4 separate regions of the Homo sapiens genome follow, and regions 1, 2 and 4 are each linked to region 3. The links come from fine-mapping of genetic effects on gene expression. A gene starts in region 3. Each other region holds a variant in brackets. All regions are shown on one strand. Distances are between the middles of the regions. Region 1 overlaps CD274 (CD274 molecule). Region 2 overlaps CD274 (CD274 molecule). Region 3 holds the start of PDCD1LG2 (programmed cell death 1 ligand 2). Region 4 overlaps PDCD1LG2 (programmed cell death 1 ligand 2).

Region 1 (8,133 bases), 40 kb after region 3:
GTTCTTTGAAACCAACGAGAACAAAGACACAACATACCAGAATCTCTGGGACACATTTAAAGCAGTGTGGAGAGGGAAATTTAGAGCACTAAATGCCCACAAGAGAAACCAGGAAAGATCTAAAATTGACACCTTAACCTCACAATTAAAAGAACTAGAGAAGCAAGAGCAAACACATTCAAAAGCTAGCAGAAGGCAAGAAATAACTAAGATCAGAGCAGAACTGGAGGAGATAGAGCCATGAAAAACCCTTCAAAAAATCAATGAATCCAGGAGCTGGTTTTTTGAAAAGATCAACAAAATTGATAGACCGCTAGCAAGACTAATAAAGAAGAAAAGAGAGAAAAATCAAATAGATGCAATAAAAAATGATAAAGGGGATATCACTACTGATCCCACAGAAATACAAACTACTATCAGAGAATAATATAAATACCTCTACGTAAATAAACTAGAAAATCTAGAAGAAATGGATAAATTCCTGGACACATACACCCTCCCAAGACTAAACCAGGAAGAATTTGAATCTCTGAATAGACCAATAACATGCTCTGAAATTGAGGCAATAATTAATAGCCTACCAACCAAAAAAAGTCCAGGACAAGATGGATTCACAGCTGAATTCTACCAGAGGTACAAAGAGGAGCTGGTACCATTCCTTCTGAAACTATGCTAATCAATAGAAAAAGAGGGAATCCTCCCTGACTCATTTTATAAGGCCAGCATCATCCTGATACCAAAGCCTGGCAGAGACACAACAAAAAAAGAGAATTTTAGACCAATATCCCTGATGAACGTCGATGCAAAAATCCTCAGTAAAATACTGGCAAACTGAATCCAGCAGCACATCAAAAAGCTTATCCACCACCATGAAGTTGGCTTCATCCCTGGGATGCAAGGCTGGTTCAACGTAACGCAAATCAATAAACGTAATCCATCATATAAACAGAACCAAAGACAAAAACTATATGTTTATCTCAATAGATGCAGAAAAGGCCTTCGACAAAATTCAACAGCGCTTCATGCTAAAAACTCTCAATAAACTAGGTATTGATGGGACGTATCTCAAAATAATAAGAGCTAGTTATGACAAATCCACAGCCAATATCATACTGAATGGGCAAAAACTGGAAGAATTCCCTTGGAAAACTGGCACAAGACAGGGATGTCCTCTCTCACCACTCCTATTCAACACAGTGTTGGAAGTTCTGGCCAGGGCAGTCAGACAAGAGAAAGAAATAAAGGGTATTCAGTTAGGAAAAGAGGAAGTCAAATTGTCCCTGTTTGCAGATGACATGATTGTGTATTTAGAAATCCCCATCGTCTCAGCGCAAAATCTCCTTAAGCTGATAAGCAACTTCAGCAAAGTCTCAGGATACAAAATCAATGTGCAAAAATCACAAGCGTTCCTATACACCAACAACAGACAAACACAGAGCCAAATCATGAGTGAACTCCCATTCACAATTGCTTCAAAGAGAATAAAATACCTAGGAATCCATCTTATAAGGGATGTGAAGGACCTCTTCAAGGAGAACTACAAACCACTGCTCAATGAAATAAAAGAGGACACAAACCGAAGGAAGAACATTCCATGCTCATGGATAGGAAGAATCAATATCGTGAAATGGCCCTACTGCCCAAGGTAATTTATAGATTCAATGCCATCCCCATCAAGTTACCAATGACTTTCTTCACAGAATTGGAAAAAACTACTTTAAAGTTCATATGGAATCAAAAAAGAGCCTGCATTGCCAAGACAATCCTAAGCCAAAAGAAAAAAGCTGGAGGCATCACGCTACCTGACTTCAAACTATACTATAGGGCTACAGTAACCACAACAGCATGGTACTGGTACTGAAACAGAGATCTAGACCAATGGAACAGAACAGAGCCCTCAGAAATAATACCACACATCCACAACCATCTGATCTTTGACAAACCTGACAAAAACAAGAAATGGGGAAAGGATTCCCTATTTAATAAATGGTGCTGGGAAAACTGGCTAGCCATATGTAGAAAGCTGAAACTGGATCCCTTCCTTACACCTTATACAAAAATTAATTCAAGATGGATTAAAGACTTAAATGTTAGACCTAAAACCATAAATACCCTAGAAGAAAACCTAAGCAATACCATTCAGGACATAGGCATGGGCAAGGACTTCATGACTAAAACACTGGAAGCAATGGCAACAAAAGCCAAAATTGACAAATGGGATCTAATTAAACTAAAGAGCTTCTGCACAGCAAAAGAAACTACCATCAGAGTGAACAGGCAACCTACAGAATGGGAGAACATTTTTACAATCTACCCATCTGACAAAGGGCTAATATCCAGAATCTACAAAGAACTTAAACAAATCTACAAGAAAAAATCAAACAACCCCATCAAAAAGTGGGTGAAGGATATGAACAGACACTTCTCAAAAGAAGACATTTATGCAGCCAACAGACACATGAAAAAAAGCTCACCATCACTGGCCATCAGAGAAATACAAATCAAAACCACAATGAGATACCATCTCACACCAGTTAGAATGGCGATCATTAAAAAGTCAGGAAACAACAGGTGCTGGAGAGGATGTGGAGAAATAGGAACGCTTTTACACTGTTGGTGGGAGTGTAAACTAGTTCAACCATTGTGGAAGACAGTGTGGCAATTCCTCAGGGATCTAGAACTAGAAATACCATTTGACCCAGCCATCCCATTACTGGGTATATACCCAAAGGATTATAAATCATGCTGCTATAAAGACACATGCACATGTATGTTTATTGCAGCACTATTCACAATAGCAAAGACTTGGAACCAACCCAAATGTCCACCAATGATAGACTGGAGTAAGAAAATGTGGCACATATACCCCATGGAATACTATGCAGCCATAGAAAAGGATGAGTTCATGTCCTTTGTAGGGACGTGGATGAAGCTGGAAACCATTCTCAGCAAACTATTGCAAGGACAAAAAACCAAACACCGCATGTTCTCACTCATAGGTGGGAAATGAACAATGAGAACACTTGGACACAGGATGGGGAACATCACACACCGGGGCCTGTCGTGGGGTACGGGGAGGAGGGAGGGATAGTATTAGGAGATGTACCTAATGTAAATGACGAGTTAATGGGTGCAGCACACCAACATGGCACATGTATACATATGTAACAAACCTACATTTTGTGCACATGTACCCTAGAACTTAAAGTATAAT[A/C]ATAAAAAAAAGTCAATTATATGTCAATTAAAAATAAAACTTAAAAAATATATTAGGCCTACTTGTGGCAGACAGGCACACACTTGTAAAAGGGACTAGAACAAAAGTTTAATGAAAGCTTATGAACCATTTTCATATTAACTTTTCTATAATACAGACCCCTCAAGTGTCACAAAATTTCCATACCACCAAGGCAAGCCAGGAAGACTAGTTCTCCATATCCTTTCCTGATTAGGAAGGCCAGATATCTTGATGTCTAGCACACATTTTTATTGCTTTGACTGCCCAAGGGCTAGCATAAATAGTGCATCATCATTACTACTGAAAACATCCAGAGGCCAGGCACCGTGGCTCACACCTGTAATCCCAGCCCTTTGGGAGGCTGAGATGGGTGGATCACCTGAGGTCAGGAGTTCGAGATCAGCCTGGCCAACATTGTGAAACCCTGTCTCTACTAAAAGTACAAAAATTAGCCAGGAGTGGTGGCAGGTGCCTGTAATCCCAGCTACTCGAGGGGCTGAGGCAGGAGAATCAGTTGAACCTGGAGGCGGAGGTTGCAGTGAGCTGAGATAGTGCCATTGCACTCCAGCCTGGGTGACAAGAGCAAAACTCTGTCTCAAAAACAAACAAACAAAAGCATCTAGAGTCAAACACATATTCTTAGAAATAGCCATTATAATCCTTTAAGAGTATCTGATTCAAATAAGTGATAGTCTTTTAAAATGGAATTTCATGACTAAAATCTCACCGGATGACACATTAAAAGGTCTATACTTCCTTGAATGATAAGTTTTGTCATGCTTGTTTAAAACCACAGATCTATGGTCCTAACCATTGCTAGCCCTTAATCCTCAACTTGGCTTAGTTCTAGTTTCCTCGCTTTATTTTCAAAACTTGAAGACTGCAATACATCTATCTTCCTACACACTGGATTGCATACCCGTTTACAGATCTGGGAAAAGTACTTTCTTAGAGGTAAGTCCCTTTGTTTCCCTATAGTTCTATTGGGTTCCACTCCTTCTCTCCCACCCTCTCTCCCTTAGATCTTCAATGTAGATGACAGGATTTTGACTCTTCTTGGTATGGTCCTAAAGGAAGCTGCCGAATGAGAGAGAATGAAAATTTTCAATACATTCTTTTTTAAAATAAAATCTTTTGATACTTTTTTCATTGTGCAGGATTCAAAAGCATGCTGTATAAAAACATGCTGTATAAGCAATGAAAAAAGAACTAGGAACAAGGCTGCAAATATTCCAAGTAACTTTCTCCACTGGGATGTTAAACTGAACATTTTATTAAACACAAAATAAACAAGAAAATGGACATGCTGGTGTACCAAGTAACAAAATAAATAAGAATATTTTATTAAATTAATGCAGGTACAAAAAGTGACAATCAAATGCAGAATTAGGTATCATCTCTGCCTATGCCATTTACGATGAAACATGAGACAAAAGGGATAAAGTGCCTTACAAATCCAACACCACAAGGAGGAGTTAGGACTTAGGAATAGACTGAGTAGACTATGTGCCTTGCTCAGCCACAATTCTTGCCTGTAATTCACACAAAGAACACTGTCACACCAATTACTGTACAAATGCACATGTACAAACAGATAACACAAGGAGCTCTGTTGGAGACACTGTTTCTTCAGCCTTGACATGTGGCAAAGCCAAGGTACTCCTTGTCATTGACACCAGAATATGGCCAAGAGGGAAAGGAAACTCTGGGATCTCCCAGGGCATCTGAATCTCGAAACCTCCAGGAAGCCTCTTAGGAGGGCTGTGTAGTGATGACAGCTGGTGGCATTCAAGGGTTCAAGCACAACGAATGAGGCTTTTCTGGCACAGGGTAGCTAGCAGTCAAGGTACACTGCCGGAATTTCCAGAAAGAAAATGTGATTTTGCAAGTACAGCATCAAAGTGAAGTTTATACTTGACAGAAAGCAGAAAACAAAAGTTCCAGACATGATTCTGTCATACAGAGTTAATAATAAGATTGCTTTTTAGGACTAGATTGACTCAGTGCACCCTGGAGAGCCCATGGGTCTCCTTTTGAGCAAACATAAACAAATCCAAACTCTGTCCTAGAGCAAATACTTAACAAATGGTGGTTGTCTAAATGTATATGTAGGACATATTTAACATATACTGGATCATATGAAAGATAATGAAAAGCTATGGGAAAGATAACTTAGAAACAAAGAAGGCATGGATCCTCAGCCCTGGGAACTTCAAATTCATTCCATCTGCTATATAAGAAACACTAAAATAAATAAAAATAGCAAAGTACACAGCAGACATACAATGTGTTACTATTTAGGAAAAAAATTTTAAAAATACGTGCTTTTAACATACATTTCCAAATGTAGACTATCTTTAGAAGAACATATGAATGAAAGGCAGTAGCAGTTGCTTCTGGAAAGGAAACTTGAATGGCTTGGAGGATGAAGTGGAGATTTTCCAACCATCTCCCATGGGATCTTTTGAATTTTGAATCATGGAAAGGTATGAATTTAAAATTTAGTGGCATTTAAATAGAAAAGACAGAACTGTTAAACAATACCAGACACTATATAAACAAGCATTAGATTATATGGCAAAGGCAAATCAGGAATAAATATAATGCTAGAAAAGGAATTCCAGTGTTATTTTTCAGGGTTATTTTAAGTACCGACCTCTCTTTGTAAATGAAAATTACTCTGATTATTAAGATGTTTAAGTATATCCAACCGTCCCAGACCACATTGGCCTATTTCCTCCTCTTGGCAACACTGCTCGGGTTTTCCCCTCGCATCATCCTTATGCTATGACACTGGACTAAATTGTAATAATACATTTTCTTGTTAATCTCCTCATTATACTATGAGCTCCTTGAGGACAGGTACTTTGTCTTGCTCACATCTGTAGATTCAATGCCTGGCACAGCGATTGATATTGCAAGGGCACTTAATAAATGGTTTTTGAATAAAAGAATTGCTTAAAGTAAAATATAGCTGTAAATTGTATTATAAAAGGACAGTGGGTGGCAGTCTGAGGTCTGCTATTTACTGGTTTGGGCAAGTTACTTAATCTGTTTGCTTCCTCAGCTGTACGATGGGTAAAATAATAGTGGTTATCACAACAGGGTGGTTACAGCGATGAAATGAGATTATGTGTGTAGGCTACCACATAATTGTAAAGCTGATATTTAAATGGAACAGATACTGCACAGACACTTGAGGTCTGAGAATAAGATTAGGTCAACCAGAGTATTAATGGGTTAAATAAAGGTGACATCCTATGCAACCAACGGTTTGATCTTTATGCTTCCAATGTATACTTGTAGTTATAGAGGAGACCAAGCACCTTACAAATACTCCATGTTTTACTAGATGTGAGCAAATCATTAAGCAGCAAGTTTAGTTTGGCGACAAAATTGTAACATCTACTACAATATATCTTCAAAAGAAATCATTCACAACCACACTCACATGACAAGAAGACCTCACAGACTCAAAATAAATAGGAAAAACTCATACATAAATACTGTCCCGTTCCAACACTGAGACTCTCAGTCATGCAGAAAACAAATTGAGGCATTGAGTGGAGGCAAAGGGCACTTCTGCAGGAACTGACCCTCAAATTAGGGATTCTCAACCCGTCTTCCTAGGATGAGCAATGGATGATTTGCTTGGAGGCTCCTTGTTCAGAAGTATCCTTTCTCCCTGTCACAGGCGTCGATGAGCCCCTCAGGCATTTGAAAGTATCAAGGTCTCCCTCCAGGCTCCCTGTTTGACTCCATCTTTCTTCATTCTCCTCCTCTGCTTTCGCCAGGTTCCATTTTCAGTGCTTGGGCCTTTTAAGTCCCACATTGCCTGCATCCCACGGGCCCATTCCTTCCTCTTGTCACGCTCAGCCCCGATGAACCCCTAAACCACAGGTTGAGAATCCCTGCTTGAAGATCAGAAGTTCCAATGCTGGATTACGTCTCCTCCAAATGTGTATCTGGAGAGTGATAATAGTATATTAATTTCATGGGAAGTGGTCTGGGGAAAAAGTAACAAGAAATCTAATAAAAAACATAACTCATAGTTGCTGATATGATAAATGATAAATTTGAAATGAGAGAAAGCAGCAGGTTATATTTGTACCCAATTATCCTTACATGATATCCTGGAAAACCCCTCAGTCCTGAGCAAATTGGGATGGCTTGTCCCCCAGCATGACCCAAACAACATTTGCTACTTAGCTTTACAACACAGATGATGCTATGGGCCACAGAATGAAACTTGCCTGAGCTTGTCCAGGTTAATTAGACTGCTTTAAACTTGGGCTCATTGTTAAGTTTGGTTTCTAACTACATTAAAAAAATTAGAAACCTTAATATAACTTTCTTCTTAGTTCAATAACCTGGATGAGGTTTTTCTGCCCTGCTTATAAATGTAAACATTTGTAGCAAAATGGATTGAAGCAGATGGGTTAAGAGTAAGGGTCTGTGGTTAGGCTAATGGCCCCCAAGCTTGATTTTTGTGATCAGCTGTGTGTTCTTGGGCACTTTACATTATCTTCTTGACCCTCTGTTTTCTCTACTGTAAAATGAGGATAAATTCTAGTATTTCTCTCTCTCTCTCTCTCTCTCTCTTTGGTAATGGCAAGGGGTGGGGGATTAAATGAGATACCGTGCATGGTGCAATTAACATAGTATTACAATACTGACACACAATATTTTAGAATCAATTAATTATCCATCCACCTAAGTCATCCTTGTCCCCTGCTGCAAGGAGCTGCTAGGGTGCAGGGCAACAGAAGATTAGCAAATGAAGCTGACTCCTTCCCCTTCCCTGCTCCTAAACCTCCTCAGACGGTGGAGGAGTTCTTGTGTTAGCTGTGAGGCAAAGGGGAACCAGCATTCTTTAAAAGGAGAGGAGATTATGACTG
Region 2 (8,141 bases), 52 kb after region 3:
GGTGACTGGATCCACAACCAAAATTCTTTGGTTGATTTTGTTGTATGGGGCTAGGACATAAACAAAAAGAAGTCAGGGCTTTTGCTGAGCACAGAACTACGTACATAGCTTGATGCTGTCCACATTAGAAAGAGTATCAATGCAGGCTGGTTCTCAGAGGGATATGCTTAATGTTCAGATGCCTCAGCCGTGGGGAACACCTGCTAGCTCTGCCTCAATTCAATTCAAAGTTGGGACAAGTTTGGATTAATAGGAATGACTATCTTTCTATAAAAATCATGTTGGTACATTTATTGGGCTCAAACAAAATGTAAAGATTAATTTACACTAAAACCCCAGACTTCACCACTATGTAATATATCCATGTGACAACACTGCTCTTGTACCCCTTAAATTTCTACAAAAAATAATTTAAAGAGAATTATCTTTAAACCAGAAGTCTTTCTATTCAAATACAAAATATCCCTCTCCATTTGTTCAGGTTTTCATATGTTTCTCAGTAAAGTGCTTCTTCTTAAATTTATTCTTGGATATTTTATTTTTGTTGTTATAAATCTGTCTTTATAAACATGAATCTCTCCAGCTGGTATGCTTTCTTTTCTTAGACTTCAGTAAACAGAAAACCTGATTTTGAGGTGTCATTCACTTTTCTGATTTGAAGTCAATGATCAGAAATTAGATATGAAAATACATAGTATTTCATCTGTAAACAGTGATATATGTTCCTGGTGATACTTTTTAATGTTTAAATTTGTTCTTTATTTTAGAAGTTTTAAATTTACAAAAAAGTTGCAAAGATAGTATAGAGTTACTGTATACTCCTTACCCGGTTTCCTCTATTGTTAGTATCTTACATTACCATGGTACAATCGTCATAACTAAGGACGTTAGTACATTATTAATAACTAAACTGCATAATTTATTCCATTCCTCCAGTTTTTCCCTAATATCCTTTTTCTGTTCTGGGATGCTATCTAGGATACCACATTATGATATTTACATTTTAAGCTTTTAAATGCTGGCTATTTTAATAAATCATTTAAGTAATTATGCTCAAGGAAGAAAGTTTGATTCAATTTTAGATCATTGGTTTGGGACCCTTTCAGGATTAAGATACGTAGTTTGCTGACAATTCTAGTAGATTGTTTAGTGCACCTATATAGCATAAGAGCTTTATTCATGTTTATTCATTACAAGTACATTAACATGTTCTTATTTTGTTGGTATAATCTTTTTTTTACTTCTAATACTATAGTGTAACCACTAATGATCTAGAGCCTTAATTCTCCATTCCTTTACCAAGGACAGCAATAGATTTGTGAGGTAATTTCTTCACAGAGAGTTAATACAAAACGGCTAGGATCAAATGAAACTGAAATAAATAATGAGTGATGTTTTGATACTCCTATATCAATGAAACCACTACCAGTGGAAACACTGGAAATCAATAAAATTATGATTTCAAAACACAAAAATAATAGTTCTTATGTGTAGGTTGCTTTGGGGTAGCTACGGATTTTCAAATTCTCTTATCTAATTTTGACTAAACTAACCATCTTACAAAATTAAACAACTAATTAAAAAGTTTCCCACAAAGAAACTGAGGACTGAAGATAATACTAATAATTCAAGCACAACCCAGAGGAAACAGCAGAAGTGACACTTTTTATCGGCCACTGTATGAGGTGGTAAACAGTAAGTACTTAATTAGACCTCGCAGTGTTATATAAAAAAACACAAACCTCAAGATTATTGACACCATCCACCTTTGTTAATGATAAAGTTCACCCTAAGGTATATTATGCCTTGACATATTAGCTAATGATAGTGAAGCATCACAATTAGTAAAAACTGAAAATATTGTTTATTAAATTTTTATTTCAACCTCTTAAAATGTCTGTTTTTGTACAAATGTCTATTAGGTTGAACCAGATGTAACTGGTAACATTCAACCTTTTTTTGCTCTTCAAAAACGGCAGTTTCTTATGATACAACTTATATATTAACAGAAAGTAAAATTTTTATAATTACACACAAATGTGCATGCACAAACACACGAGTTCAAAATGTTTTACAGATGAGATGAGTAATCAAAATTTTTGCAGACCCAGAACACTATACTAATGTTGGACAATCAAAACCAAGAAAAGGTCATGATAGTTTTGAAGTCAACATATAACTTGATACGTACACCAGAGGTACAAATATAGGCAATAAAAAGTGGTTATTAAGGGCCCAGACTTCAGAGCTAATCTGCTTGGGTTTAGAACTAGCTTTATCATTTTCTAGGCTGGGTGAATTTGGGCAAATTACTTAATTTCTTTGGACCTCAGTTTCCTCATCCTTAAAATGGGAATAATACCACTTATCATGGAATCAAAGATTCCATCATTGAAAGACACACTCAGATTTCAGACACAACAAAATGTGAAAAATACTCATCTTACATGATGAAGCACTTACCCCCTAGAGTCATTTCCAGGAGGAAATGAACTAATTTAGACAGAGTGTTCAGTACAGGGCCTAACACACAGAATAAGCAAGTGCTAATTGTAGTAGTACTCGATAGTAGCAGTAGCAGAGCTGCTCCTCTTCCTCCTTTTACTACTGCTGCTCCAGTGTACCCTTTAGAAGCTGCTAACAGTTCCTGATGAACAGTCTGGAAATAAATTTTCACATATCCAAATCTGTTCATGTTTCCAAAATTTTAGGCTAATCCTATTTGAGGAAATCATTCATTCATTGACTCAACAAATATTTTTTTGTGTGCTCTTTTCGTACCACCACTCTGCTGTATATCAGGCCCTGGGGATGCAACAATATTATAAAACAGGCCCAAATCTTTGTGCTTGTGGAGTTTATATTCTAGGAGGAGAGAGACAATAAACAAAACAGAAAAGTATGATATGATATGCTACACAATATACTAGATAGAGATAAATGCTACAGAGAACACTTAAACAGGGCTGGGAATTTTGGGGAGAGATGGGGTTGGTGGGGAATGACAGCAGTCGATTTGGTCCATATGATCCAAATAGCTTTATCGGGACAACTATGCAACACTTTGATCTTTCAGCTGCCTAATCTCATTGAAGGTTCTGAAAGTCTGAATGAACATTTCGTTTTCCCTGCTGTTAGGTTCAGCGATTAAAGAAAAACACTTTTAATTGAAAGTTAGTGGCCTGAGAGTCTGGCATTTAAACTCACAAACAAGAAAGGTGCAATAACACCCGAAGTGATAGTGATAATTGAGTGAATCCAAAACTAAATTCTTTCAAATTTCAGTTTTGAAATGTTTCACCTTTAAAATACCATGGTGAGTAAACTCCTGTGGGGAAGCTATGTTACCACACATTTGCTGTGATGGGAAGTGAAGTTCAACAGCATTACTGTGAAATCATTTGCATATGGAGGTGACTCAGGAGTTCTACTTCCCTGAGTTGGGAAGCTCCTGCAAGCCAGCT[G/A]CCTCATTTCCATTGGAGACACGGCCTCAGTGCAAGTGAAGCTTGGTGGTTGCCTTGTTCTAAGTGCAGAAGGTTCAGACTTTTGGTATAGCTGAACTCAATCCCAAAACCACTGTATGCAAATGACAAGATGGATTGGGAGTAGAATGCCAATTAAGTAATTTACAATACAAAATGGAATTGTCAAACAAATCAGGTCCTCAAACCTGGTTGGTCATTTGCTTTGCTCCAGGAAGAACTCCCCCTTGGAAAAACCATCAGTGCCGGAAGATTTCCTATTGTGTTGATCCATGGCAAAGGAGACTGCAGATACACAAGGGATATTATGGAGCCCAGACGACCTGAATAAAACCCTTCCCTACTACAAGGACAGCTGTCCCTTCCCTACACACTCCCTACAGGCTGATGAGAGACCTTTTTTGGAAGCAGAAACTTATACTTTATGCTGCCTTCTTCCTGACTGCCAGGATTATACTCTTCCTTTCCATCCCAGATCTAGCAATGCTGTTGATGAGGCTAAGTCATGATGATTTCTTTAATATCTTGGAACACAGTAGATGCCTGATATTTGCGGATGGACTGGAGAAAAACTGAAAGTATAAACCACAACATCTCAAGAGATGTCATGAATGGAGAAGCATATGGTAAAATATAATGAAAATTAAATCTACTTTACAAGTGGTATCTTCTTGACAATAGTGGCATTACCTGAGCCAGTATCAGGGACCAGAAATACAACATAAAACTGATACATTTCTCTTAATCCCCACATGATTTTGTTTTTGAGTTTATAGTTATCAGTGATCATTGATTAATAATTGATCAGTGATCAGTGACAAATGTATACTTTTTCTACTTGTATTGTTAGCCCTCAGATTGATGGTAGTTAGCCCAGGAATGGAAAGACCAAGGGGAGATGATTTAATTCTAGTCAAATATTAAAAGGTCATCATGTAAATGAAATAATCCCAAGACTACAACTAGAGGGGCAGATTTCAGCTTACTATTAGGGAGTAATTTCAACAGGATATGGAAGGGATATCCAAATGGCAGGGAGGCCATTGTGGGATATGACAGGGACGCCATTGCAGGAAATATAAGAACAGAAGATCCTCTGGGGGATTTTTGTTCTTTGTGGGAGTTTGGATTAGCTGCTCCTGCCTGGGATCCTTTCAGCTCTCAATTCTGTGAAACTCAACAATGAAAGCAGAGGTGTTTTCCTTTACTTAGCTAGTGCCAACACAAAACTTTGAACTCAAGTGACCTGATAACATAACTGTGGGTCAATACCGAGGAACTAACACTCCTAGTTCCTTTTCAATTCCCCAAGACAACATCAGTATAGATTTTCAAGATGAATATATGCCCAGTAAGTATGGCTTATCCTGTACTGGAAGAATAGGTTCTTTCACACTTAATGTGATTATTTTTTGTCTTCATAGGGTGACTTCAAGTCTTTTTTAATGTGAACCTTACAGTGGGGTTTGTTCTGAATATATTTATTTGCATTTGATATAGAGAGGCTCAAAAAAGGAAAACTGACGGACCTAATAAAATAAAAAAATAGTAGTTGAATAAAAAAATTTCTGGAGGGACACACAAATAATGGTTACTCTCTCTGCATGCCATGGGAGATAGTGGTGAAGGGAGGAGGGACACTTTTGCAATTCATTTGATCTCTTCCACAGTATCTGAATTATTTGCAAGTATACGTATTCCATTTGTAATAAAAAAGTAAAGACTAGAAATTCTTTTTGGAAAACTGTACATACTGTAGAACATGGCTCTGTGTTGTTTGTCTCTGGATTTCCAGTGACTATCAAATAGGTGCTCAAGAAATTGGATAATTATGTGAATGAATTCATGAATTGAATGAATGAATGAACAGACTATGCTGTTCTGTTTGAAAATAAGTATGGACTTACAAGAATGAAAAGTCTTCAACACTTGGAATATGTTTTCAATAAAGATCAGGCCTCTCATCTATAATAATTCTTACCATTGACTTTCACAGTAATTCGCTTGTAGTCGGCACCACCATAGCTGATCATGCAGCGGTACACCCCTGCATCCTGCAATTTCACATCTGTGATCTGAAGTGCAGCATTTCCCAGGGAGAGCTGGTCCTTCAACAGCCGGGCCCTCTGTCTGTAGCTACTATGCTGAACCTTCAGGTCTTCCTCTCCATGCACAAATTGAATAATGTTCTTATCCTCCATTTCCCAATAGACAATTAGTGCAGCCAGGTCTAATTGTTTTTCTACTGGGAATTTGCATTCAATTGTCATATTGCTACCATACTCTACCACATATAGGTCCTTGGGAACCGTGACAGTAAATGCTAAAAAGAAAGAAGGACAATCTTCAGAAAAGGGAAAATTCCTCGAAACATTTACAAAATTGGCACAGCGTTTATAAATCACTTTATCTGGTCGGTTATGTTATCATTATATTTAAGAACTTGCTAAACACATATTTTATCCAATGGGCTTGAAATATGTTTTGGGACACTATATCTCATGCTGAGACACAGTGTCCCAATAGCAGAATAATAAAATTAGCTAAACAAGTTGCCCCCACAATTTATAAACATATATTACTGTATAAATATTATATGGAGATGGAGTCCTTACAACCAGGGAGACTTGGTTTCATGTAGACATCCCCAGAATGTCCTTTGACAGGACACCTATTTGCTTCCTACATAGAGGGAATGGTAGATTCTAACAGTCATCTCTTTTTACTTCCCTAAACTTTTGATCAGTTTTCTGGCAAGAAGTACATTGGTATGGAGTTCAGGAAAGAGCACAGGGTGATGCCAGTACTGTGTTAGCCTGACATTTTCCATGTATCTTACAATTCTTCCTTAAAGTATCCTCATCAGGAAAGGCATGTCACAGAGCAACCAAGACTGAAAGATCAAAGGATCTTGGCCTTGTTGAAAGCAAACAAATAAATGTATACATACAGGCCATTTCCCCAGATATTTTCAGTAGTTAACCCTGGGAAATGGGTAATAGATTATTTTGTGTCTTTCAATTTGTCTATATTCTCTATATTTTTACAAAATGACACAGGTAACTTTATCATTGCGTAAAGTAGAAAGAAGACTTTGCCATTGTGTAAAGTAGAAGAAAGAATAGAATGTTCTCTCTATAAGAAAATTGCATGCATTTTAAATGATCATTTTAGTTTTAAACTCATGGTTAAAATATTTAAAATATAGAACCTAATGGAAGGATTTGGTGTCTTACCGTTCAGCAAATGCCAGTAGGTCATGAATATAAAGACAGCAAATATCCTCATCTTTCTGGAATGCCCTAATTATGGAAAACACGAAAAGAAGACTGCTTCACTTAATAATTAAACATACAATATGACAATATGGGACTTGGTGGTTCTAACTGAAATAGTCTTCTAATAACCAGTCATGATTGACTTGTAATTGTGGAAACCCAACAGGGAATTGGAAGTTCAATATCTTCATTCCATTGCCCACAGCCACATAAACTTAAGTGAAAAAAGTTACTAAAAGATGAGAAGTTTCAAATTTATTATAGTTACAGGCCGTGAAAAAAATCTGCCCACTCAAAAGAAGCCAAGAAGATAATATTGCACCAAATTCCTCTCAATTATTTCATGTTTTTTCTGCATTGTAACATACCTAGTAGAACCTGCCCTGTACAAAATTTCAGAGCAAGGAGAATCTGACTTTTACTTTTCCAACCTGTCAATGCTTTTTCCCCCTACAGCTAAATACTTTCATCTTACCCTTTAGCTATTCAAGGCTTCCACTTCACTGTCTCAGCCATGCTAGTCCTCCTTCAGGTGCCATCCTTCAAAATCTCCTCTTCTGCCCCTCTCACTTATTCTAAATTATAAATCTATTCTCTCAATAAACAGATTCTTCTACTAACAGTGGGGAGTGGGAAGGGGAGAGAGTTGGATTTGACTAATTCATACTAAGATATGAATGACTCACAGCCACTCTTCCAGAGTATCTGCCTAGATTCTATTCTTCATTTAGTCATCCTGCTTGAAATGTGACTAATTATTTCGTTTAGCAAACACTGATTGAGCACCTCTTCTGTGCTAGGCACTATTTTAAGCATGAGGAATACGGAAGTCAGAGTGAAAGAAAAGTCACTCTCCTTTTGCAGTTTATGTTGAAGTAGGGGAGTAAAAGATTTATACTCTATTTCAGCCAATCTGTGCATTTATTAATATTTTCTCCCTCTTCTGTTATACATATATTTACAAACTTTGATAAGAAAGAGGTAAGTTTTCCCTCTTAGTGCCTCTCCAATCTTTGTATACAGACATGAACTCACAAATGATCAACTAATCGATGCCACGTATATATAAGACAGGAGATTAATGTTCCTAATATATAAATAGCTCCTAACAATCAATAAGACAACTATACAAACTACACATAACCCATGAGGAAAAAAAGTGAAAGGTCATAACATATAGTTCAGAGAATAAGAAATACAGGTGACATGTAAACATATGAAAGATGTTCAATCTCACAATAAAAAATATAAGATATGAAATACCATTTTCACTTATGAGCTTGACCACAATTGTAAATATTTCTAATATTTAGTGTTTGTGAAGATATGAACAAATAGGCTTTCTTACCCACTAATGGGAGGATTTTTTTCTTTAGGGGGC
Region 3 (8,145 bases):
TGGAGTGTAGTGGCTATTCACAGGTGTGATCATAGAGCACTGCAGCCTCGAATTCCTGGCCTCAAGCAAACTCTGGCTTCAAGTGATCCTCCTGCCCCAGCCTCCCAAGTAGCTGGGACTATAGTTGTGGGCTACCTTGCCCAGCTTATTCTGCTTATTTCTACATAAGAAGTATCAATTTACTCAATTGCATTAGGAAGTTGTATCTTTCCAGAGAAATCAAGGAAACATCTGTAAATTCTGAGGATAAGTTCGTAAACAGAAAATGAGGAAATTTTTTTCAAGCAAAATTTGCAAGAGGATCAGAAATGATGGTAGGTTCTAGCAGTTTCACTTCTTGGTTGCTATAGGCCTAGTTTCTTGCCATTTCTACTGTCTGTGGAGATCTATTTCCAAACTGATAGATGAAATACAAATAATTGTGGTGCTGAAGCTTTAATTATCTCTTTCTTTTATTCAAAACATTTACTTGGTATTTACTATGTGCCAAGCTCTAGTATACAAGGGTAAATAAGACACAGCCAGTGCTTTTATGGAATTCTCTGGTCTGTGCAATAAGTGAGGCATAGACATTCTATGGAAGTATCTCAAGAATCCTAGCAAATCATTCCTTTGTGTAACAATAACCAGCCTAAAGGATCATGTTTGTAAAATACTTCATTCTTTGTTAAATACTGCCAGTCTTATCCCATTTGCCTCTTCCCTCTCCCAGTGTCTAGTAGAGCCCGGCTATCCATGAAGACCTAGATAAATGCATACCCAATTGATCTGAAATACCTGAACTAACCACTGTTTTGAAGCCAAGTGTCTAAGACACTAATTGTAATTAGCAATGTCTGAACATAATCTGAATTTGAATGCCTTTGGGCAAGTTATGCAGAGTTTGCCCCAGGTCCTACCATTTTCCATTGTATTAGACCTAGCTGGATTCACTTATTTTTGTTGCCTGACAAACCCAATAGGTATTTGAGTTTTGGGGGGATCTTACAGCCAGTACTCTGCTGTCATAGGTATATGAGTAATTATTTGATCTCTAAACCATCTGTGGCATAGATAGACTACCAGTAGCCTTAAGATGCTATTCTACTCAATTTAATAGAGCATTTAAGTTCAAATTAAATCTCAATTTTTTAAGCAATAAACAGTGAGTTCCCACTTTTTATAAGCCTTTATATTAGAAAGTTGTGAGAATTCATAGAATAATTTATCATTGGAGAATTCATAGAGGGTTTCCTCTAAGAAAGGGCCCTTGCCCTTAAAGACATTGTACCATAATTGGAAGGTTAAAACTCTCACACATGAAAAATAGTAAAACTGATGTAAAACAAGTGATAAAATTGCAAAAGCCCTAGAAGTTGACTAAAGGAAGGGAGACTTCCCAGAGGGGTAGGATTTGAACTGGGCCTTTGAAGCACTGGTAGGATTTGGGGTTGAAGCTATTCTAAAGGGCAGTGCATAGCTGACTCAGAAGCAGTCTCAGAGGTGCAAATGCACAGGCGTGTTGAGGGGACAATGAACAGAGTAACTTGGCTGGACACTTAGGTTGAGAATGTCAAGAGCTTAATGCCAGGCAGAGCTGCCAATCGGGAAATAGTGGCAGTCACTCAAAAACTAAGTGACAATACCAAAGGAGTATCTGAAAAAGATTACATCTAATTTTTTTTTTGAGTATAGAATTGAGGGTGGGTGGAATTGGTAGACAGCCTCTCAATTAGGGGGTCACTGTATTCATCTAGATGTTTGGTAACAAGGCCCTAACTTCAGGTCAGAAAAAGGAAGCAAGGAAGAGGAAGAAGAAACATATAAGACAATTGACAAAACAATTGACTGCTGATCAGCCATGCACAAGAGACAAAGAGAAAAGCAACAAGATTGACTGTGGTTTTAAGACCAGACTGGCAAGACAATATTGGAGCCATGGGGGAGGAAGGGTGGCAGGGAGAAATAGAAGATGGGGAGCTGATTTTAGAGGGAAGACAGTAAGTTTGGTTTTAGTCTGGGCAAGGCATAAGCATTCCAAAAAATTGTAGGTCCAGAGTTTGGGACAAAATTTAGGGCTAAAGATAAGGAAGTTATTTCTAATATGGAAATGTTAGTTAATATTGAGGAATGAATGAACCATCTGATGGGGAGAATATAAAAGAAAGATTATAAAGAAAAGATCTGAACTCAGGAACGTCCCAAAATTTGGAGAGCAGGAACAGAGGACTAGTGAAAAAGGCAGAGACAAGGTGGTCAGAAGAGCATCAGAAGCTCCCCCAGGGCAGTACTTCTGAGGCAATGGAGGAAAATCCCTCAAAGCAGGGGCAGTTCATCATAGGGAGCCGTGAAGACTAAGAACTGGAAGTCAGCCCACAGGTGTGTTAGAGACAGCTGGAAGGCATCAGAGGTGACTGGGGCTAGATAACCTTTCAGATGCTCTTGTCTGTCCTGGAATTCTGTGAGTTGATTTGAAGGTTATCGAGCCCAGCTACAGTGGAGCAGGGTGTGGCATGAGGAGGTGATACTACAGTTGCCCCTTTACAGAGTAACCCACGTATGCAACAATTAAGACATATGACATATTTGGACATTAGCATGTGGAATTAAAATGACACACAACAATCTACTGGTTGCTGTCCAATGTATTGTAAAGCAAATAAACTCTGAAGCATGACCCATAATACTGTCTCTACCATCTCCTTTTTCAAATCAACCTCAAACTTCCCCCTGTCCATTACACGAACATTTCATTTCTGGTGATTCTCCTGACATTTCATCAAATAAATCCATTCAACAATTCGGCAAGCACCCACTAAGCACCTATGTGTATTGCCAGGTACTGCACTAGGAACTTGGGACTCAGAGAACCTTAAAGGTGTGCTTCTTGCCTGTGAGGAGCTCCAGTTCAATGGAAAAGCTCACCAACAGGAGAAATCTGGGGAGAAGACACCCTGAAGCAGCAGACAACAAAGAGCCTGATGATGGGGAGACCTCAAATAATGAAGGCAAATAGATCAGGTTCCAGTGGCAAGAGCAGCAGGACCAGGATTGTTCATCCACTCACAGAATCTTAGGCTTGGAAAGGAGCTTGGAGGACATCCAGGCCAACTCCGTATTTGACCCTGATACAACTGTCTCATTACTGCTCACACTGAATATTTTTACTCTGCATTTTGTCAATTTAGGTCTCTCATTCCCTGCCCCTCAGAGCCATAGTATTTTTGGGTTAAAAGTCCTGATTAGTTGGTAATCTCACTCAGGCTTAGCCTCTCCACCTCCATCCCCTCCACATGAACCCATTGCCTTTGCTCTTCTACTCAGTGCATCCAGGCGGTGAGCAATCAATAGCAATTATTTCAGTTCTGTTTAATTTTTCTACCTTTTCGCTGATCATTTTATATGGAAAGAATAAGCCTTTCCATAGTCCCCAAATCATGCTTTTGTTCAATAATGATTACCTCTATAAGTTATTAAGATAATAGTTTTGGGTTTTTTGTTTTTGTTCCCCCTCCACCAACAGCTGCCTCTTAGGCATAGCTTGTAAACAAAGGCCAGCCTGGAGGGATCACCGTCTGCTAAATGGATAATCACAAACAGATGTCAGTCATAGGAAAACAGATTTTTAAGTTCTTCACCATTAAGCCTCCGAAAACTCTAAGCTGAGAGACAATCTTAAGAATAGTTATATTATTTTACAGTGCACATATTTGGTGCAGAAAATATCTCACCTTATAAAACTGAGCAACAAGAACAATATGCATAGGAACAAGTGAGAGAAATCTGGGGCAGGAGGACATTAGCTTATTTGTGCCCCTCAGCACAATTTCTGAGGCAGAATGTCTCTTGCCTCAAATGGTGTGGAGAGAAGGTAGGCCACCCTTCCCCCACCCTGGCAGCCTCATCATGGTCCACAACATAATAGTATGAGAGTATCTCAACCCACTCGTTACTCACATGAGGACTTGCCACAGCTCCACAAGTAAAGATGCAAAAGTAAACAACAAAAAACAGTTGCTGTTTGTGTTAGATTTCCTTATAGTAGCCACCAAAATGAACAGCCAAAAGGAAAAACAAAACAATCAACATGCAGTAGCTCCAACCCAGGATTCTTTCTAGCTGGGACATATGAGGATGGGTAACAAAAAAGCACTCAAAATTTGGCGTTAAGATATATTCAAGAGAAGAAAAGTTGTTCATTCAGCTTAAGGTTTGCCGTAACATGAGAGTGAGTCAAACCAGAACTAGTTCTGAGGAACTGACGAAAGCCTGGCTTATTTGGAAAGTTTTGGTTTTGCTTTTAGCAGTTTGTCTGTGAATGGGATTGCATTCCTGATTTGGCTCTTGGCTTAGCTATGGTTGGTGTTTAGGAATACTAGTGATTTTTGTATGTTCATGTGGGATCCTGAAACTTTCTGAAGTTTATCAGCTTAAGGAGCTTTTGGGCTGAGACTGTGGGATTTTCTAGATATAAAATTATGTCATCTGCAAACATGGGTAGTTTGACTTCCTCTCTTCCTTCTTGGATGCCTTTTCTTTCTTTCTCTTGCCTGATTGCTCTGGCCAGGACTTCCAATAGTATGGTGAATAGGAGTGGTGAGAGAAGGCAGCCTTGTCTTGTGCCGGTTTTCAAGGGGCATCCTTCCAGCTTTTGCCTATTCAGTGTGATGTTGGCTGTGGGTTCATCATAGATGGCTCTTATTATTTTGAGGTATGTTCCTTCAATACCTGGTTTGTTGAGAGTCTTTTTTTTAACATACCTTGAGAGTTTTTAATACCCTTTTATTCCCTCTCTTTCCCCTATTCTTATATGTGCTCCAGCTTCCCCATTGTCCCTGGAGCACATTTAGGAATAGGGGAAAGGGATGGAATGAAGAATACCAGCATGTCTTAGTGCTGTGCCAGGAAATTGACTCATTTCCTAGGGCTTCTGTAACACATGACCTCAAGTCCTTGGCATTCCCTGACTTATAGTTGTATCACTCCAATCTCTGCCTCCATCTTCAAATGACATTCTTTTCTGTGTGTATCTCTACATTCCTCTCCTCTTATGAGGATACCATCCGTTTGATTAGTGCCCACCCTAATGCAGTATGACCTCATTTAGACTACATCTGCGTAGACCCTACTTCCAAATATAGTCACATTCTGAGGTCCTCAGTAGACATGAATTTGGGGGGAACATTATTCAACTAACCTCACTTCATTTCATAGTGCCTCATTTCATTCTCAGTGCAATGTGTGGTTTAGAGTTAGACCCATTTTACACATGAGAAAACAGGACCAAGATCAAACAATGTTTCCTTAGTTGCATGGCTGAATTTGAACTCGGACCTCAGTGGCCCCACTATACCTTCAGGCTTGTGATTGGTGAGATTAAAACCACATGGCAAGAAAAGGCAAACTTGAATATAGGCCTGAATGATCAATCCTTCTCCTGCTGCCTCCCGCCCTTTTCCTTGTGCTTATAGGGGTAGGACCAGCAGAGATGTGGGGCTGAACACTCAGACAGAGGATGTTTTTAAGAAAACATCTCTCCTTGCCTGTCCTCTAAGCCTTCCCTGCCTCCTTGTTTCTTCTACAAAAGCAAGGATCTCCTTTCCTCCTCCTTGTCCTGCATCCTCTTTTCGTCCCATCGCTTGAACAAGAAGTACTTTAAGAAGTACTACGAAGCTGTGTAGTACCTACAGATGGGAGTGGCTGCCTAGACGGCAAGAGTTGGGACTGTGTCTGTGGGACCCGTGCTTCCTCTGGGGATCTGCTTCTACACCCACGGCTCCAGGCATGTGGTTTCCTTAGGAGTTGCCATTCTCTTACCTGACCCTCTGTTCCTGGCCACAGTGACTGGCTGAGGAATGGACATATGTCCCCTGTGTGGCTTTGAGTTTTAGTATCTATGGAAAACACACCTCACCTACCAGAGTTCCTGTCCTTCTTTAGGAGTGAGGTGCACTCACCACAGTTTCCTTTCCTCTCTCTTGGGTAGCCTTTCTCCAGGCTTGGCCTGCCTCTCCTCTTCACACTTTCCTTTGGGCAGTTCAGCTCTGCTTTGCCACAGTTTAGGGCATCCTGAAGCAAAGGAAGGCCCAGGTATATTCACAGCAAGGCCAAATGAAACTCAAGCTAGTGTCTCAGCACATTAGCCTGCCTCATAAATCTATATGTCTAGAGAAAATAATGGAGGGTTACAAACCAAAGTGTTAATAAAGGCATTTCTGGGTGGAGGTAACTTTTTTTAGTTTTTTGTTAAACTTTTGTTTTACATAGGTAACTTTTTTAGTTTTTTGTTAAACTTTTATTTTACATAGGTAAACTCGTGTCATGGAGGTTTGTCATACAGATTATTTTGTCCCCTAGATACTAAGCCTAGAACCCAGTCATTTTTTTTTTTTTTTTTTTTTTTTTTTTTTTTTTTTTTGCTCATCTCCCTCCTCCCTGGGGCCTCCACCCTCAGCTAGGCTCCAGTTTGTGTTGTTCCCCTCTTTGTGTCCATGTGTTCTTATCACTTAGCTCCCACTTATATGTGAACACATGTGGTATTTGGTTTTCTGTTCCTGCATTAATTTGCTAAGCATAATGACTTCCAGCTCCATCCATGTTCCCGCAAAGGACATGCTCTTTTTTACGGCTCTATAGTATTCCTTGGTGTATATGTACCACATTTTCTTTATCCAGTCTGTCGTTGATGGGCATTTAGGTTGATTCCATGTCTTTGCTATTGTGAATAGTGCTATGATGAACATGTGTGTGCATGTGTCTTTGTGATAGAATGATTTACATTTCTTTGGGTATATACCCAGTAATGGGATTGCTGGATTGAATGGTAGTTCTGTTTTTAGCTCTTTGAGGAATTGCCACACTGCTTTCCATAATGGTTGAACTAATTTACACTCCACCAATAGTGTATAAGCATTCCCTTTTCTCCATAACCTTGTCAGCATGTTGTTTATTAACTTTTTTTTTTTGAGATGGAGTCTCACTCTGTCTTCCAGGCTGGAGTACAGTGGTGAGATCTCAGCTCACTGCAAGCTCCACCTCCTGGGTTCATGCCATTCTCCTGCCTCAGCCTCCTGAGTAGCTGGGACTACAGGCGCCCGCCACCACGCCCGGCTAATTTTTTTGTATTTTTAGCAGAGACGGGGTTTCACCATGTTAGCCTGGATGGTCTGGATCTCCTGACCTTGTGATCTACCTGCCTCAGCCTTCCAAAGTGCTGGGATTACAGGTGTGAGCCACCGCACCCGGCCAACTTATTAACTTTTTAATAATAGCCATTCTGACTGGTGTGAGAGGATCTCTCATTGTGATTTGGATTTGCATTTCTTTAATGATAAGTAATATTGAGCTTTTTTATATGCTTGTTGGCCATGTGTATGTCTTCTTTTGAAAAACGCCTGTTCATGTCCTTTGCCCACTTTTTAATTGGGTTGTTTGTTTTCTTCTTGTAAATTTGTTTAAGTTCCTTATAGATACTGGATATTAGACCTTTGTCAGATGCATAGTTTGCAAAACTTTTCTCCCATTCTGTAGGTTGTGTGTTTACTTTGTTGATAGTTTCTGTTGCTGTGTAGAAGCTCTTTAGTTTAATTAGATCCCATTTGTCAATTTTTGCTTTTGTTGCAATTGCTTTTGGTGTCTTTGTCATGAAATCTTCACTCACTTCTATGTCCAGAATGGTATTGCCTATATTGTCTTCCAGGGTTTTTTATAGTTTTAGGTTTTACATTTAAGTTGTTAATCCATCTTAAGTTGATTTCTGTATCTGGTGTAAGGAAGGAGTCTAGTTTCCATCTTCTGTATATGGCTAGCCAGTTATCCCAGCCCCATTTATTGAGTAGGAAGTCCTTTCTCCATTGCTTGTTTTTGTCAGCTTTGTCAAAGATCAGATAATTGTAGGTGTGCAGCCTTATTTCTGGGTTCTCTATTCTGTTCCATTGGTCTATGTGTCTGTTTTTGTACCAGAACCATGGTGTTTTGGTTACTGTACCCTTGTAGTATAGTTTGAAGTCTGGTAGGATGATGCCTCTGGCTTTGTTCTTTTTGCTTTGATTGCCTTGGCTATTTGGGCTCTTTGTTGGTTCCATATAAATTTTAAAATATTTTTTTCTAGTTCAGTGAAGAATATCACTGGTAGTTTGGTGGAAACAGCATTGAATCTATAAACCG
Region 4 (8,000 bases), 47 kb before region 3:
TTTTGCAACAAATAGGCCACAAGTTTTGGAGTCAAACAGACCTGTATTCAAATCCCAGCTGTATGACTTTGGGAAGTCATATAACTTTTCTGAGCCTCACTTTCTTAACTCCAGCATAAAGACACTTCTCCTTGCCACAAGCAATTTTTGTGAAATTAAATGAGAAGTTTGTAAAGGGTCTAGCACAGTGGTTTTCAGTAGAACTTTCTGCAATGATGGAAATGTTGTATATCTGTACTGTCCAATACAGGAGCAATTATCTGTACATGGCTATTGAGCACTTACAGTGTGTGAATACTTAAGATGTGACTGATGAATTTTTATTTAACTTAAAAAGAGCCACAGATGGCTATTATATTGGACAGAGCAGATCTAGCATACTCACCTGCATATAGTAGGTTCAATGTTTAAAATTTCATTGAACATTTATTATATGCCAGGTAATTTTTTAGACACTGGGCATATATTGGTGAATCAGAGAAACACAGTTACTGTATTCTTGAAACGTAAAGACAAGCAGATGAAGCAGAATTTAACATTATTTTGCAACAGAAGTTGCCAGCTTCTTCTCTAGAGCCCAGCAGGTCACCCTCGAGCCCCAAACTGTTGAATGGTTCCTCTTAGGGGAAAATGGTAAGCAGGACCTTTTATGGACCAATAATGGCTGCCCTCCCAATACACTTTAGTACACAGAGCTAGTCACTGAGGTATAGGTGGGTAAATCTGTTCAGGAGCTAAGAAGCCATCTGGAAGGAAAGGGACCAAGCCTGCTGCTTCTTTACTTAACTTTGCAATGGACTAAGAAATTCAGGATACCAATGGCCCTAAGAGGAACTGAAGAGAAGGAAGTTAGGACTGGCGTCCCAGGCTCAACATGAGGGCCTAGAAGGGAAGAGGCTGGCTGTGTGCAGCTGTGGCTAAGGCAGGGACCTCCTCCTACCTCATCAACCCATAGGGGTCCTGCTTTGGGACCAATGACAGAGCATGTGTTGGGGAACCATAAGAACTGTAATCTTGTAGCACTGTGGTCTGTGTGGGGATCGGAACCAGCAAGGTTACCTTTGCACAGTGGATGGAGACATCTGGAAGGACCAGAGATTCTGCATGGCCGGAGTAGACAGCAACTGCTCAAAACCAGGGCCCTCTGGAGGACTAACCTAGCTGCCTAGCACTGGCCCTGTGGGCTAAGTAAGCTTTCTGGCAGTTTGTGGGAGGTGGAGAAGTACATGCTATAAGAGGGAGACACTGAACTTCTTGCTAAGATGGGCATGTGGGTACTTGAGGAATCAATTGGAAAATTAAAAGGGATGCAATTTAATTGGTAGTCCAAGCTATTAAAACAGATCCTAGACATGTGATTGTGTGCTGAGTATACTGAAAGAAGAAGTAGGTGCTATGGAAACATATAATAAGGGGATTTAATGTAATGGGTGTGGTGCGTGGAGGTAGAATTAGGAAAGACTTGATGAAGTATAAGCTTAGCTGAGATTTAAAAGATGACTCCAACTCAGGTGGACAACAAGAAAAAATATTTTAAGAAGAGACAATATTGTATGAGAAAACTCGGAATTGAAAGACTGCCATGCCTCTGAGGACTAGAAAATCCTGTGTGGTTAGAGCTTTAGACAATGAAGGTGATGGTGATGCAGTTAAAGCTGGAGACATGAGTCAAACCATCCTGGGCTCGTTGGAACTTCATCCAGTGAGCAATAAGAAGCCATGGAGAAGGTCTGGACAGAGGACACATGGTAGATTTATGATTTTTAAAAGCCTATTATAGCAAAAAGTGAGAACAGACCAAGTTGGAGGTAGCAGGAGTGAATACAGGGAAACCAGTTAGGAAGATTTCTCTGTAGTCCAAGTTGAACCACACTAGCGGCAGTGAAGTTCGGCCAATAAGCTGTAAAATGTTCCTTCTCTTGCTGCTTCCCCTTTTACAGATAGAAAGACCATCTCAAAGAAGATAGGCAATTTGTACAAGGTCAGAAAGCCAACAAATGGCAGCACAAGGTCCCAGCCTAGCCCTCTGACCCTGGTTTAAAGCTCTGTCTGCATCACCAGCAGTTCTCAACCCTTTTCCATGGCACACAAGTTTGTGTGCATGGCAGACACATGTAAGAAAGCAGATCTGAATGCAAGTGAGTTGGAGACAAGGGTTATATAGGCAACCATGATTTCTCTCTGGTTCATTAAAAATATAAAAGAAATTGTTTGCACATTTATTCACTTAATTCTTATTTGTAAGAAAGGTCTCCTAATCACAGTTAGAACTTGAGCTTTACCTCCCAGCTCGGAGCTACTGATATCCTCACTCACTCTTAAGATTGGGGTGAAGGATGAGGAGAGGATTTATTTCCACTCTATCTTTGAGTGTGACTCCATTCCATTCTCCCAAAGACAGCTGGAACGGAACACTCAGCTGCTCATTTCTGAAGTTATTAAGGAGTCCTCAGGCCCCAGGCCTTGAACCCTGAGGTATGGGTGTGAGAGGTAAAAGAAGAATGGCAGAAGATAAGACAACTGAGGTGCACCTGACACAACTCTCTGAAGTGGTTCTATTTAAAAGTCGAAGTTCTGTTGGACATACCTCCTCCTTTACCATGAAGCTCCCTTCCCTCCCACATTTATTTTTCTTTCTATCTTTCTTCTTCTCCATCTCCTGTTTTCTCTTTCTCCCTCACTCCCCTGGCCATCTTCTTCCCTCCCTCTGTCTTTTTCTTTTGGCAACAATTCCTTGCATTCTACAGTTAGAAATATTGTGGTCAGCACCCAAGTGAATACATACACACATAGGGCAATGGACAAATAGAACATGACAATATTTTATGGCAGATGAAAATATAGAAGTTATGAGTATAAATGTAAGATAACAACCACTTAAAATTCCCCTAGTCCTCAGATAGTGCTGCTGCAAACTCCTACTGAATTATTTCCACATGTCATTTCTCTTTCTATAGATGAGGCCATGTATAGATCTTTGGAGAAGTTCATTGAGTGCAGACAAGGGAGCCGTTTAGGAAAGCACCAGCTAGGCCTGCATACATTCTGGGGGTTTTGTGGGCAGGCTCCACCCAGGAAACCAAAGACAGACACATGAACAATGAAGCAATGAAATCAGGGCTGAAAGGCTTCAGCATGCTCTGTCCCAGCTGGTACAACAGAACAGGAGTGTGTTGGTAAGAATACAACAGGCTAAGGAGAAACTCGAAGGGAGCTGCTGAAAGACGTTAATGCACCACCAACCAGCTGTTTCCTTATCCCCAAATGGCCTCACAAACCTTTCTCCTTTCCTTACCCAACCGTGAGGTTGAGATTCCTGGGAGAGGGGGTGGGTTTAACCCAGGTCATATCCAGACTGGGGAAAAGAGGGGTGAAAATGGAAGGAATCCTCAGAAAGGATCCTGGCAACCTCCCACCAGCAAAATCGGAGCACGTAGCTCTCTGCATTGCCAAAATAACATCACTCTCATGAGGCTGATGAAAGCTCTTGGCTCAAAGAATAAGACAAACTCTTTCAGACATAAGAACAAAACATTCCCTTTAAAAAACTCAGTGTAAGAAGTTCAGCTCACTGACGATGAGAGCCATTTTCTTCTGGGGAAAAATAATCATCAAGACAAGCTCAAAGTGGTTCATAAGCTCTGAGTGGGTTTAGCATGAAAGCAGCAAGCCATAGGCCTGCAGTGCAAAGCAGTGGCTCATGCTGCAGACACCCAGTGCATTGGGTTACCATGAATAAAACTCACTTACCTTTTGAAGAATACAGCTTTTGACAGAGTTGTTTTCTTAGGGCT[A/G]TCACTGTGGCTATGAAAATGAAAGCAATGATGCAGAAGGGGATGAAAATGTGAAGCAGCCAAGTTGGATGGGTCCTGGGTTCCATCTGACCTGGGCAAAGGAAAAGCACCAGAATCCTGTTACATGGCAACTAAGAGGTAGACCAACAGGCTGGCCACATGAGTGGGTGACAGCCAACACGGCTAGCTCTGTGGAGCATTTACTCCACACCAGGCCCTATTCTAAGTGCTCTGCACCTATCAGCTCATCCACTCCTCGCAACCACTCTGTGAAGTTGGCTCTGCTATGATCCCCATTTCACTGGTGAAGAAAGGGAGGCACAGAGAGACTAGGAAGCTTTCCCTAAGTTACATAGTAAGTGACCCAGCTAAGATACAGTCTGGTTCCAGATTCTGTGCTTTTTACCACTCTCTCATGTTATTTTTTTCCATCCATCCATCAATCCATCCATCTATCATCTAATCATCTTTCTTTCTTTTTTCTCTTTTTCCTCCCTATCCCCCTTCTCCTCCTCATCCTCTCTCTCTTCCCAGTGGCAAAGTCTCTCAGCCCAAAAATGTCTTTCCCCCACTGACAAGTACTCACAGTGCTTAGAATCTATACCATTAGTTGTTAAATTTCAAGGATTAACAGGATCCTTTTGGAAGAAATAGAATATCCTAGGTAGTGTTAATATACTAAACCTAGTCACTCATGCCTTAGTGTGAATTATTACAATTGGCCCTTTGCCTTGTTTCGGTTTTTCAACGTCCTAGCACTGAGGAAAGGGTGAGTTTAGTAGAGGGTGGATCAGAAGAATAATTCTGGAGGCTGGGGAAAGCCTTGTAAAGTCCTCTGGTGTGTACAGATTAGAACAAGGGCTCCAGACTGACAAAAGGCAGGGCTAGAGGAGTGTTCACCTACAGGGAAATGAAAGGGTACTCAAGTTAATTTGTGCCCTATTCAAAAGCTTGAATTTTGCCTCTGGAGTCATTCACATGGAATAAACATGACAGGCTGGTACAGGAAAAACTGGACGAAACTGCTCAGCGGGAAGGGCTCAGTCCTCCCAACTTCCCAGCCCTCAAACCCCACTACCTCCAGCACAGTGCTATCTGAGAACCACGGATTGTTTTACTGGAGAAGAGATTAGACATTATTTAGTCTGAGCCCCTCATTTTAGAGTTGAGGAAGTAAGTCTCAGAGTTGCTAAATAATCTATGTGAGGTCATCACTGCTAAGTAAAAGTCAATGCCAGGATTGCAAACCCAGATCTATCTGACCCAAAGCTCAGCCCCCACAGATATTTGTCTCCATCCAAAAGAGTGTGATTAACATTAACGAAGAAAAGATAAGGAGCCTTGCTCATCCAAACATTGGATAACCCATATTGATTATAATCTGCTTCTTAATTTCTAGTAAGTGCTTAGTAAGCACTTTGTGAGTCAAGGAGACCTGGGCCTCTCACTGTCCCCACAACAGGAGAGGTCCCTACCTCAGTGTCTTTATGCAAACCCTTGTCCTGTGCAGGTTCCCTCATAGTCTCTTCCACGTACAGAAGCCCTACTCATCCCTGAAGACTCCAAAGTTGAACATCCAGTAGGAAATCAGTCTGCTTAGACTGTATTTGGAGGGCAAAGGCCTTATCTAAACTACCTCTGAGTCCTCTCTAGATAGAGCCAAGCAACAGCTACATGAAAAGTGCCAATATGGAATTGTTGCACTGAATTGACTGTCTCTTTTCTAGTCCACCTAGCCTGATCCTCCTAGTCATTTGTTACCTTGTGGTATACTGCTGGTTAATCCATTCTTTCTTTCAACTTTAGTATTAGGGAATTAGCTGGACACATGGCTTCTCAGAGACTATGTTTCCAAGCCTCCCCTATAGTTAAGTGGGCCCAGCCATGTAATCTAAGTTCAGGCTAAGAGAGTGAGTTTTCAAGGTCTTGGCCTTAAAACATTGAATGTGTTTTCCACCACTCGTTTACTTTCTGAAGGTTGAAACATGGGTTTGGCACTGACTGAGCTTTGACAATTTTATAGGGACAACATCCTGGAGAATGGCAGAGCAACAGATGAAAATAATCTGGATCACTGAATGACTCTATGGAACATAGCTGCTTAGCTGCTCTGAACCACCTGAGTGTTACATGGAACGAAAGATACTTCTGTCTCGCTTCTCACTGTATTTCGAGGTCTCTTCATTATGGTAGCTTAGCCTGTATCCTCATACATATTCCTCTAAGTTGTTTTAAAATTCTTGCATACTCTTTTGTCGTTTCTTTAATTTAATTAATTAATTTATTTATTTGAGAAGGAGTTTCCCTCTTGTTGCCCAGGCTGGAGTGCAGTGGCATGATCTTGGCTCACTGCAACCTCCGCCTCCTGGGTTCAAGTGATTCTCCTGCCTCGGCCTCTTGAGTAGCTGGGATTACAGGCACCTGCCACCATGCCTGGCTAATTTTTTGTATTTTTAGTAGAGACGGGGTTTCACCATGTTAGCCAGGCTGATTTTTGAACTCCTGGCCTCAAGCAATCCACCCATCTCAGCCTCCCAAAGTGCTAGGATTACAGGCATGAGCCACCGCACCTGGCCAATAATGGCATACTCTTAGCAATGATATAATGATGCAATGGCAAAAAATATTTGTCTTATCCTTGCCACAACTTCATGAACTCACAAGTAAGGCATGCAACTTGCTAGATATACCATTTTTTTTTACTGTTTGCACACTTTCTGAGTACTAAGCACTTTATAAGCACATTTCATTTAATCCTCACTATAACCCTATAAACTGTCTACCACTACTCACCCTCATGCTACACATGAGAGACTGAGTGCTAGAGTGGCTAAGTAGGATATTTAGGTTCTCAAAGCTAATAGAGAGAGAGTTTGAAATTTAAGCCTGTCTGACATCAGAGCCCATGCTCTCAACCACTGCCTGGAATCACCTCCAGGTCTCCTAGGAAGGATTCTCTTTTCTGCCAGCCCTACAAGGGTCCTTTTATATTTATTTTTTGTGCTGTAGTCCCATTCCATTTCCTAATGAAAATACAACAACTGGCTGAGCAGAAGAAACCCTATTTCAAAAGGAAAATGATCTGTTGCTCCCTAACTTGTGCTTGAAATTTGGAATGTTCAGTCATCCATTCTAGAGTCAGTGGAGTACCCTCCACCCACCATACTCTTCGTTTCCGTGTTTGTTTTATACATTGACTTCCGGAGAAGCTTGTGGGTCACAGCAGTCCACAGCTCAATTTATGAGAATGAGTAGAAAGGGAACAGTCATAAGACAACTTAAAAATGCCCTTGAGAAATAGAAGCCAGGAACTCAGAGGCAGATGTGTGACTTTGGTTATTTTGTTGCTGGTATTTGTGCCACAAGCTAGAATATCATTTGGCTGCTCTGACCTGGCTGTCCACACAGTCTGGTAGCTGGCATGATGGGACTGCGATTATCTAAGATGGAATCTCCAACCCAATCAACCCAACATTTGTTGAGCACTTATTATGAACACAGGACTCTGCTTTTGCCTTAGTGTGGAATAAAGAAGACTTGTGTGAACAATGAAAATACATGGAAAATAAAATAGCAATTAAAAAGGCAAGCATAGTTACAAGGCAAACAAATGGTCCAGGTAGTAGGTCTCAAAATGTGGGATGAGGGAAAGACCCCCTTGTGCCCTGGAGTGACTGAGCTGCCCCAGAGAGAGGGTGGGCTTGGAGCTAGTAGAGAGGGAAATAATGATATTTATGTGGAAAAACCTGAGCAAAGAAGGCATGGAGGTAGAAAAGGTGCAGCCAAGTTCAGAGAGCATGTGGTGAGGAAGGGATGGTTAATGAAGCAGAGGATCCATGTCAGTAAACAGTAGGACGAATACAAAGTTGGGAAGGATGGGTAAAACCAGGTTGAGAATTTCTGGCTGCACAAAGATTTCTCCATCTCCCTGATGGCTGTATTTATGAGTGATACCCTAGGAGATCCTGAGCTCTGATGAAGACCCCACAGGTCTCTCCCATGGTTGTTGACTATTTAGTAAGCCATGTTGGCTTCCATGAAGAGAGTGGAGTGGCCATTTTACTCCACTGTTAACTTCTCACAGCGTAAAGGCTTCCAGAGCAATGGTCAGTCTGCCCTTTCACATCTCTACCATGCAGAATAGAACACTGACATAATCAGTGGTGTAAAGTTATTTCTCAATTCATCTCATACAGGCCCCTGTTT

Evidence for each region. PIP is the estimated chance that this variant, and not a neighbour inherited with it, causes the effect.
Region 1: its variant is fine-mapped to the expression of PDCD1LG2 in whole blood (TOPMed, PIP above 0.99).
Region 2: its variant is fine-mapped to the expression of PDCD1LG2 in whole blood (TOPMed, PIP above 0.99).
Region 4: its variant is fine-mapped to the expression of PDCD1LG2 in whole blood (TOPMed, PIP 0.96).

What each region holds. Positions count from the first base shown.
Region 1 is chr9:5,466,907-5,475,039 of GRCh38, reverse strand. CD274 (CD274 molecule) reads right to left here. Exons shown (of 7, transcript NM_014143.4): 7 at 4,486-7,200. The coding sequence ends at 7,178. All of the region lies in intron 2 of INCR1 (interferon stimulated noncoding RNA 1), which reads left to right. Among named protein-coding and RNA genes, the nearest start is that of CD274, 20 kb to the right of the region's middle. The variant A/C (reference allele first, on the strand shown) is at 3,215.
Region 2 is chr9:5,454,743-5,462,883 of GRCh38, reverse strand. It overlaps CD274 (CD274 molecule), which reads right to left. Exons shown (of 7, transcript NM_014143.4): 2 at 6,719-6,784; 3 at 5,464-5,805; 4 at 1-50. The coding sequence starts at 6,770. It overlaps INCR1 (interferon stimulated noncoding RNA 1), which reads left to right. Exons shown (of 3, transcript XR_007061406.1): 3 at 3,697-5,453. Among named protein-coding and RNA genes, the nearest start is that of CD274, 8.3 kb to the right of the region's middle. RefSeq lists enhancers at 3,365-3,424, 3,341-3,635 and a silencer at 3,341-3,635. The variant G/A (reference allele first, on the strand shown) is at 3,465.
Region 3 is chr9:5,506,595-5,514,739 of GRCh38, reverse strand. PDCD1LG2 (programmed cell death 1 ligand 2) reads right to left here and starts at 4,209. Exons shown (of 7, transcript NM_025239.4): 1 at 3,937-4,209. All of the region lies in intron 2 of INCR1 (interferon stimulated noncoding RNA 1), which reads left to right. RefSeq lists enhancers at 4,111-4,160, 4,321-4,380, 4,441-4,520, 4,462-5,661.
Region 4 is chr9:5,553,503-5,561,502 of GRCh38, reverse strand. It overlaps PDCD1LG2 (programmed cell death 1 ligand 2), which reads right to left. Exons shown (of 7, transcript NM_025239.4): 5 at 3,751-3,885. The region is part of intron 1 of INCR1 (interferon stimulated noncoding RNA 1); the gene reads left to right. Among named protein-coding and RNA genes, the nearest start is that of PDCD1LG2, 47 kb to the right of the region's middle. The variant A/G (reference allele first, on the strand shown) is at 3,795.